Regions from separate parts of the Homo sapiens genome. Here all the other regions are reported to be linked to region 3. Evidence: microRNA targets listed by miRTarBase, many of them from high-throughput screens and not tested one by one. Region 3 holds a microRNA gene; each other region holds the end of a gene's coding sequence.

Region 1 (3,254 bases), not on the chromosome of region 3:
ATAGTTTGAAAGTTTTGTGCCTTGTTTTTGCCAACATAATTAAAAGCCAAAAGTACTGTTTGTTTTTAAAAAATCTATTTCATATAAAAGCCAGATTCTCTTCTTCCTTTCAAAATTGACTCTTAGCAGTTCCATATATTTATGATACTGTCAGAAATATTAGCTGATTATCACAATTCATTGTCTTAATGATCTCAGAAAAAAATTAAGAAACCGATTTCTCTTTCCAGCCTCCATCAAGAAATCGGCGAGAGAGAGCTGAGCTAAGGCCAGACTTCTTTGACTCTGCAGCTATCATAGAAGATGATTCAGTAAATGTCAAATTATTACTGCTTTTTATTTATGGTTCCTGGGTCCTGTTTATGCATGAAATTAATAATTATGTTTCTCATCATTTTTCTAGGGATTTGGAATGCCTATGTTCTGAAGTCTGAAGAAAATTTACAAATCTGGAACTCTATTATTTAGAGCTAGAGGCCTATATACTGTGATAGCTTGTATGGGGAAAAACACTTTTGATGTGATCTGATTTGTTTTTTAATCAAATGATTAAGGTCAATCCCTTTTTGCAGTGACAGAAGAGGAGCATGTAAATTACCCAAGGGAATGTTGGTGAATGTCAACTCAGAAAGACTGACCTGAAAATCATTTGTGTCCTACTATTGGACTTATCCCAATACAGATGTGTGTGTTTTTCTGGAGGGAGGAAGAAATTTTAAATTTTTAAAACAGCTGTCAAGATAAACACTGTTATACACCTGTTTTATGAAAACTCAACATTGAGTAAAAAAAAACATATTTTTAACTTTATTTTCCTGTTGTACAATTTAAAAACCGTTTTAACATTTTGCCTTTTTATGTTTTAAAAGCTAACCATTTTTATTAAACCTATGAGTAAGCAGCTCATCCTAATTGCGAAGAGTGTTTTGGAGTTCACTGGATTTGGTTGACCTTTGTGGAACACAAATAATGAAGGAGCAGAACATTGACAAGCTAAGATGAAATTCTGACATAGTACATCTCTGCCAAAAACCACACACCCTCTGTGGATATGGATATGAATTCCCAGATTTTATATACTCTTGAATAAAAGGTTTATTTTTATTTATAAGTGGGCATAAAATAAGAAATGTCCATGCAGCCATTTTTCCAACAGATGCTGTACACCGTTCATTTTATATAGACTAGGGAGATTCAAATACAGTGCATTTTCTATTGGTATTTGTTCTGTGCATTTTTAGCAACTTCTACCAGCAAATAAAGTATTCTCAGTAAAACGAAAATGATTCTCAAGTTATCAGTTTGCTGTTTTTACCACTTATTTCATGCCCTGCCAAATTCAAGTTACACAGACTTCCATTTTCTTAAGATAATCAATCATGAAGAAATCCTTTATCAATCATTCAAAAGTAATTTTAAGTGTAACATAACTGTGTTTACTTCCCATGCACTTAATACCCTTATGCGCTAATTTTGTGAATTAAGTTTACTGATTATAGAAGTATGTGCTGCATAGAAGTCTGTGCTTAGAGGGTGAAGTTCCTAAGCTTACCTTGAATTACAGCTACATTTCAGTGTTAAATGTGCATATTAAGAATAATTCTTTTGGGGAAAGAAATTATGAATCTTCAGGACAGTCTACAATGGTTTAGAGTTACATTCTGCCTAGACTTTTATGACTTGCTGCTATTGTTTTAAAAACCCCACTTAGTCTCTCTCTTCCTTTCTGATTTCTAAAGTAAGCCTCAGAATTTCCAAACCAATTCATCCACAGCTGTTTCTGGGCTGGTTTTTAAAGTAGCTGCAACAGAATCATGAGGCTTTCCCTTTTTATCAAATACGAAAAACATTTTTTAAAATTCTGCACACCCAGTGATCATCTTTTGTGCGGGAAAGCAAGATGATGATGGATGATTTTATTCATCCTTTTAGTAAAGACACAAAACATTTTTCTCAACATTTGTACAGTTCTGAAAAAAACCTGGTCACCAAAAATATCTTCTCTGCTAATTCAGCAATTCTTGGGCTCCAGTTAGGGGAGCTGGGGCCTCACTTTCTCCCAGAATTGTGGGCTTCACTGGAAGTGAAGGTGCAGGAATGACTGGACTGTCCACCCCAGCCCTGCCTGCCTGTGGTTTTGGCCAGGGAGCAAGCCATGAGGTGCCCTGGCACATGCACAAATTGATCCTTTGCGTGACAGTCTTGTATGGAAAACAGATGCTGACAGAATTGTAGACTACCATGCCACACAAAAAGGCTAAATATCTACTCCAATGGGTTTCCAGTTCAGTTTGAAGTCAATCAAATTTTTGTATTTTCGGTGTCTCCTTGATTGGTTTTGCTAGTAATTCTGTAAATTGTACATTTGCAATATGAGGTTTTTTTTCCTTTTGTACAATTTGAAACTGATGCTTCACCTTTCCTTTAATAAACTATTCAAAATCAGGCTTGTGGTAGTCATCCTATTGTTTCTACCAGGTATGGCTTTAAAGAGATGATTTTCTGTCCTGTGGCTCTTGAGAGAGTTTGCAATTTCTGATAATCTGTTAAATGGCAGCAAGTTAACCTTATTAGTGAGTTGGTGGTTTTGTTGTTTTGGCTTTTTAATTTTTTTTAAGAAAGCAGAATTTAGGAATAGCTCACTTTCTTTCATTCCTTAGATTTCTCTGGAGTGTGTGTAGGCCAAGTCATCTGTGGTTTAAGAGGGAGTCTCTTGCAAACTGAGTTTTGCATGAGGCATTCAGGGAACACCCATCCACTGGCCTGTAGCATGGGTCCTCACGGCTTGAGACTCTGGGCTTACATGCATAATTGCACCCTGGCAGTGCCCTTTTGAAGACCACATAGAGTCAATGCAGCTACAGAAATGAAGTTTTCAGCCAGGCATGGTGGCTCACGCCTGTAATCCCAGCACTTTGGAAGGCCAAGGTGAGTGGATCACTTGAGCTCAAGAGTTCGAGACCAGCCTGGGTAGCATGGTAAAACTCCTCTACAAAAAATACAAAAATTAGCTGCGTATGATGGCGCACACCAGCTACTCGTGAGGCTAAGGTAGGAGGATGGCTTGAGCCCACAAGGTGGAGGTTGTTGCAGTGAGCCAAGATTGCACCACTACTGCACTCCAATCTAGGTAACAGAGCCAGACTGTCTTAAAAAGTTTCTCTTGGCATTAGACCTCCTCACTCTTTCTTTAAGAAGTCATACCCTACACACTTCATGGGTCTGGCAATAGGGGGTGAGTTCCTTAAATGGCC
Region 2 (3,260 bases), not on the chromosome of region 3:
CTACTCAGAAGGCTGAGGTGGGAGGATCGAATGAGCCCAGGAGGCCAAGGCTGTGGTGAGCCATGATTGCAAAAGAGAGAAAAGAAAAGAGAAAAGAGAAAAGAAGTGGGGAGGGAGGGAGGGAGGGAGGGAAGGAGAAAAGAAGAAAGGGAGGGAGGGAGGGAAGGAAGGAAGGGGAAAAGAAAAAAGAAAAGAAAAAGGGGTGGATGAATTAGCCCAAGATACACGGGTGATAGAACCAGCCTTCACAGCCAAGTGGTCTAACTCCAGAACCCACTCTTCGTTTCTTGGAATGTTAAAATGTATTTGAATGCTAAAATGTGTCTTGTCTTGTCTTTCCTGTGTCTTGTCTTTTGTCTTGTCTTGTCTTTCCTGTGTCTTGTCTTTTGTCTTGTCTTGTCTCGAACTGCTGAGCTCAAGCCATCCTCCTGCCTCGGCCTCCCAAAGTGCTGGGAATACAGGCATAAGCCACAGTGCCTGGCCTAATTTTTTTTTTTTTAATAGACAAGAGGTCTTCATATGTTGCCCAAGCTGGTCTTGAACTCTTGGGCTCAAATGATCCTCCCACTTCCGCTTCCCAAAGAGCTGGGATGACAGGCCTGAGCCACCATCCCCTGCCTATTTTTAAAATGTTTGAGGAATATCCATACTGTTTTCCATAGTGGCTATAGTATATCCCACCAGTAGTGTGTGAATGTTCCCTTTTCTCCACATCCTCACCAAAGCTTGTTTTCTTTTGTTTGATAGTAGCCATTCTAATTGAAGTGAGGTGATATCCTCGATGTGGTTTTGATTTGCATTTCCCTGATTCCTGACGTTGAGCAATTTTTTCACATACCTGTTGGCGACTTGTACGTCTTCTTTGGAGAAATGTCTGTTTAGGTCTATTGCCCATTTTTAAATTAGGTTGTTATTCTGTTGTCTAAATTCCTTATATATTCTGGATATTAACCCCTTGTCAGACGTAGAGTTTGTGAATATTTTCTTTTTTTAAAAAAAAAAAAAAGATAAGAGTCTCCGTCTGTCGCCCAGGCTGGAGTATGGTGGCGCAATCTCGGCTCACTGCAACCTCCGCCTCCCAGGTTCAAGCGATTCTCCTGCCTCAGCCTCCCAAGTAGCTGAGATTACAGGCATCCACCACCATGTCCGGCTAATTTTTGTATTTTTAGTAAAGACGGGGTTTTGCCATGTTGGCCAGGCTGGTCTACAAACTCCTGAACTCAGATGATCCACCCACTTCGGCCTCCCAAAGTGCTGGGATTACAGGTGTGAGCTACCACACCTGGCCATGAGGGCCATTTTTACCATATTAATTCTTCTGAGCCCTGGCCACCTTCTCTTCCTTCCTCTTTTCACTACCACGCTACACATTCTCATTCTGTTTCCCATCTCTCCCTCCACATAAGCAAGGAGTTTCACCTGGTTGCCAGAGCGCAGGCAAGGACTGGGCACACAGTAGCTGCTCAATAAATGTGGTTCTTTGACTGATTAGTCTTAAAAGGCTTACAACAGGTAAAGCAGGAGCCCACATTTAGGAGAAGTTAATCATCAAAACCCACAGGGGAGTTCTACGAAATGAAGGGCAGGTCAGCCAGGGCAAGCCTGCCCACCAGGGAAGCCTGTGACATCTGCTCAGATACTTCATTCTGAAGACACTGAACATAGTCGCTCTGTAAAGTCAAGCAAGACTCTGCCCTGACCTGCATCACCCCTGCCCCCACACCTGCAGGAGCCGGAGCCCACCCTCCTGTGTAAACCTACCAGTCCCCCGGCCCTACGCCACGTGCTGAACGTACGTCTAGCCTGAAAGGGGACCTAGAGAGCGCCTCCTGGACTGGTCTATTTCTTACCCACTGGCTTTTGAGCAAGGAGTCAGAGGGGTGCTGGGGGCCACAGCTCTGAGTTTCTCCAGCCTCCCCATCCAGACTGGCTACCTTGACATTTAAAAACGCATTACTTTTAGTTACGTTCGATCAGGACTCACTTTTCTGAATGCAAGTGATCCTCCCTAACCCCAGGCCTGCCGCCTGATGGCTGGGACACACTCTACCTGAGAGCACTCTGAGGGAACCAGTCTCTGAGGGCCCCTCACACCCCCATGTGCAGCATGCGCTGCAGAGCAAAGCCAAGGGTCCCTATTGACTTGTATCACCTTTTATTACACAAAATAGATTTCAGCCACGTTGCACATTCATTCTCCCTACAAATCTGGCTTTTAAGAAATCCGTAGGGATTCAGTCTCATCGATTTCATGACTTTCCTTTCATTGATGTCATGCCTGTATTGTAGTCAAAGTCCTCTCAAAGGACAAACGCAGATGTGGCTGCCTTGGGTCAGCTGCACACAGTACACTCCCGGCCTGCCCGCTGGAGGCGCGGCTCCCACCATCACCTGCACCGCGACTTCTAGGGACTGGCAAAGCGGCAGCATGCCATTGCCTTCTCCAGCCCTTCTCCAGCAGCACAACCAGTCCTCCCAGCTGGTCCTGTGGGGACCAGCCGTCATGGCGACGTGGTGACAATGTCCCCAGGCAGCCGACCATCCTGGGCTTCTCTTTGGGCAGGCCTGGGCCAGGACCTTAGGGGATCTCTGTGTCCATGGTATAAATCTGAATGAGATCAGACACAATATTATCAATGATTGGCTTGGTAAGGTCGTCATTAAACACCTAGAAAGAAGAAGGAAAACAGGTTCCAGTTAGACTCCCTCTATGTTAAACAAGGCACCTGTCACTAAGCAGAGAATCACATTTCATGGGCAGGGGAGGGGCACAGGGACTTGGCTATGTAGGAAGACAGTAGCTCTCCTGCAAAGCCAGTTTAATTCCAGCCCGTTGAGGCCAAACACTTTACAAGGCCGAGAACATTCCAGATGGAACAGGCCTTGGTGATCTTCTGACTCAGAGAGGAGGGGACCTGTCCAACGTCATACAGGGAATTGGTAACACAGCTGGGTCCAGAGCACAGGCTCCTGCCTCCTGCCCGGGACTCCCTCAGGTCCAGGGTCTCTGCGGACACTGGCAAGAGGAGAGGGTGGCAGTCCCTGTGCAGCCACAGGCAGGCTAAGTACCCGGACCCCACGCCTACCCTAACCCAGCCCCTGGGGAGCATGTGGACCCACTCCACAGTCCGGACCGCCACGTGCAGGAGCACTCGCAAGACGGCGAAGGACATCCTCGGGGCCCATGGCAGGAGGGTTGCAGCCCAGGGCCACGCCACAGGCTGGGGTCCACACCCTGTACCTTCCAAAGGCAGGTCTGG
Region 3 (3,260 bases):
AAAATGTACATCTTCTATCTCACTTAGGTGTTTTTCCTGTTTGAGGGACATGGTTTGCAAAGGTTAGAATGAATGAGCCTCATAGTTTTTGTCAAAAGAGAATATTGATGTACATCTGAATAATAACCAGAACATTCATATTAAGTCATACTATATAGCCATTTAAAAGAATGACGAGTACATAAAAGACTGTTGTGGAAGTCTATGATATATAGCTGAATAACAAAATAGATTATAGAACAATAGGTAAAAATGAGCTTATTTTTGTCTAAGCCACTCTCCCCCCAAAACATGCAAAATTACAGCTATTTATCTGTGTATGTATGGATAAAGGTCTTCAAGGATATAAAATAAATTCTAGTTATGATATTTATTATCTTAATAAGTTTATTATAATTATACATGTTTTCCTCCGAGGAAATGGATTGCAGATGATGATTGAAGGGATTTTCAATTTTTACTTTGTATATTTTTGTATTTGAATTTCTAAATAATAAGCATATGATTCTGTTTAGAAATTCTGAATGTACTGATTTTTAAAATGTGATGTGATATCCAGATATGTATTTAATTCTTCCTATAAAATATCATTTCCTTAAATCTAGACTATTGAAAAAGGAGAAAAGTACTAGGAATTTAGAGAACTTACTCCATGTTAGAACCAAGGAGAACAAGAAAAGCTTTAGCTAGTGTTTTGGAAATAGTAGCAGCTCCCACTCACAGCAGTAGCTGCTGCACTCAGGCGACTCTCTGCACATGCTTTTGCTTCCTTTGGGTTGTTTGGTCCGCAGTTTGCATTCATTGATCAGTGAGTTGATTCAGACTCAAACCCACCGACAGCAATGAATGTTGAGTGCAGCCATCAGTGTTTTCAGTTGGTGGGGTTGCCTTTGCCCTCCCTGGCTGACTCCTGGCTCTTCTTTTCCATCTCAGTTCTTTGAAGTCTGTGTGTCTGGCTTCTCCCTTAGTAACCAGCCATCTGCATGATTGAGGGCCCACACAGGTGTCCATAACATTGACATTGGAGCTGGGAGGTTATTGCAGATGAGGAAGCTGTGGTTCAGAGAAGGAAGGAGTGCTTGGAGAACCTCACAGGTAGCACTGCGCCACACAGGCAGTGCTTGCATATTAGTACCTGTAAACCACAGCTGAGGGACCTGCTTTTCCTCTTTGTTTTGAACTGAGAAGTATGAGTGCTTTTTTGAGGTAAATTAGCAGATTATGTTGGAGTTTAATAATAACAGCTTACATATATTGAGCATTTGCTGTGGGCTAGTAATGGTACAAAGCACCTTATATATTATCTCATTGAGTCTCAAAACTCCATGATAGGTACTCTTAGCCTCTGTTTTATATGTGAGAAAACTGAGACACTTGCTTAGGGGGTCAAATAACTAGTTAAGGGCTTGAGCCAAGATTCATCCCAGATCTGACTGACTCCAGGGCTAAGTTTTTGCTTGAATTTAGCAAACATTTAAATAAGCATATGTGGGGATATGTGGGCACTAGTAAGGCAATAGCTCATGCTCTAACTGGGATATCAAAAATTAACCATATTAACTATAATTCAAAGTGAAATGTGATAAGAACTGTCACAATTGGATAATTTTGTGCTATTTTTGCTTATTAAATCCTCCCCTTGCCCCTAATTAAAAATTTTGAGAGGATGTGGGAGAAATGGGAGTAATTATTTAACTGGATTTTATTCCAAAACAAAATACGTATTTTTAATAAATTTTTACTTGCTACGTCCTGTTTCTCACCAGAATGGTGCATATCTAGGAGACATGTAGGTACATTAGATATCATCATGGACTGCTCCTTACCTTGTTGAAATGAAACACTTTTTTTGTAAAAACAAACAAATAATAATAAAACACACAACAGAAAGCAAGGAACAGTGAGCAGTAGGAATAAAATTCACTGGACCACATTTGGGGGATTGCAGGACCATTTCTGGTGAACTCATGTGACATGTGAAGGTACAGCTTGCTCTTTTGCTTCAGGAAATGTAGTGTCGTCTGTAAGGACCCCAAGGTACAGTCAACGGTCAGTGGTTTTTTCAAATCCCAAACTCACCGACAGCGTTGAATGTTCCTTGGAGTCCTCTGAAGGCTGGCCTGATAGCCCTTCTTCATTCTCCCATCCACATCCCAAGAACCAGTGAGCAGTGAGACCACCGCTGATGGATGCTCTTACATTCCTCTCTGGGTTTCAAGTCGAGAGTATTTAAATTATAAAATCAATTTGTGTGCAGCAGAGAACTAATGAACTGTGGGATAGACTGTGCAGTAATTTGTACAAGCAGACTCAAATGAATGTCTGAGAAAATGTCTTTGAATGGTATTATTTTGTGATTCTAAAAATGTAAAATACCTGATTTTGCAGTAGTATTTTAATTGTTAACAAGGGTAAGAGATTAACATATATTGGGGATCTGCTATATACTAGGATTTGTATATTTTATCTCATTAAATTCTCAACAACCCACATTTTCCTGATGAAAAAACTTGAAGTGATTTGCCTAAAGTTACATTGCCAGGAGCCAAGGTTATAAGCCAGAATTTGAATACTGGACTTCATGTTTCCAGTGCTCACTCATCATACTGCTTCTGTTGTCTACTACAGAACTTACTGTTGATATCTAGGAGTAGACCCATCACTGCAGAGCCAAAGTCAAACATGTAAATTTCTTCTACTTGTTTGCCTATAATAATAGCAGGTAGGTCTATAGGTGAGGTCATAGGGGAAGATGAAAAACCTCGACCTCCATGATTGATGATCTCCTTTGCTGAGATCCTGCATTACTAAGTTACCACAGAGGTGTTAGTGATAGTCCACAAGCTATTTTCCATATTGAAAAAGCAAAAAATAAACCAAAAACCCACCACCTAATGTAAAGCTTGCATTTCTTCTTAGTTGAGAACACAGAGTGTAACTAAAATGTCAGATGTCATTTGTTCTGGCTGAAACGATACCAGTACATTATAGGACATAGTGGTTATTTTTGATTCTGTTGAATGTCTGTGATGAAAAATTTGAAAAATGAATTAATAATATGAATCTTCAGAATATGTGATTTACAATGGGACAGATCTAGGAATACTTAATAGGAAAAGGGCTTACAGAACTGCCTGCTGAATTGAAGTTAATCTCTAAATGGGGATAGTTATTACTATTTGCTTTAGGTTTAAATACTAAAGGCTGACTGGTCTCAAATTCATTTTTAAAGCAGCCAAATGGTACACGTTAAAAGAAAA

The links. The annotated mature microRNA hsa-miR-181a-5p reads AACAUUCAACGCUGUCGGUGAGU and lies in region 3 at 2,074-2,096, opposite strand. An mRNA with a match to its seed (bases 2 to 7 or 8) in the 3' UTR can be bound and repressed. Matches are read on the target gene's strand: a 7mer-m8 pairs with bases 2 to 8, a 7mer-A1 pairs with bases 2 to 7 and ends in A, and an 8mer does both.
Region 1: miRTarBase lists STAG1 as a target of hsa-miR-181a-5p. Seed matches in the 3' UTR shown: 7mer-m8 at 614-620.
Region 2: the mRNA of CCNQ is a reported target of hsa-miR-181a-5p. Seed matches in the 3' UTR shown: 7mer-m8 at 2,188-2,194.

What each region holds. Positions count from the first base shown.
Region 1 is chr3:136,335,427-136,338,680 of GRCh38, reverse strand. STAG1 (STAG1 cohesin complex component) reads left to right here. Exons shown (of 34, transcript NM_005862.3): 33 at 231-311; 34 at 404-2,445. The coding sequence ends at 427. Among named protein-coding and RNA genes, the nearest start is that of PCCB, 87 kb to the right of the region's middle.
Region 2 is chrX:153,585,787-153,589,046 of GRCh38, forward strand. It overlaps CCNQ (cyclin Q), which reads right to left. Exons shown (of 5, transcript NM_152274.5): 5 at 2,139-2,668. The coding sequence ends at 2,579. Among named protein-coding and RNA genes, the nearest start is that of CCNQ, 12 kb to the right of the region's middle.
Region 3 is chr9:124,691,316-124,694,575 of GRCh38, reverse strand. MIR181A2 (microRNA 181a-2) reads right to left here and starts at 2,134; the gene lies at 2,025-2,134. All of the region lies in intron 2 of NR6A1 (nuclear receptor subfamily 6 group A member 1), which reads left to right. The region is part of intron 1 of MIR181A2HG (MIR181A2 host gene); the gene reads right to left. It overlaps MIR181B2 (microRNA 181b-2), which reads right to left and starts at 866; the gene lies at 778-866.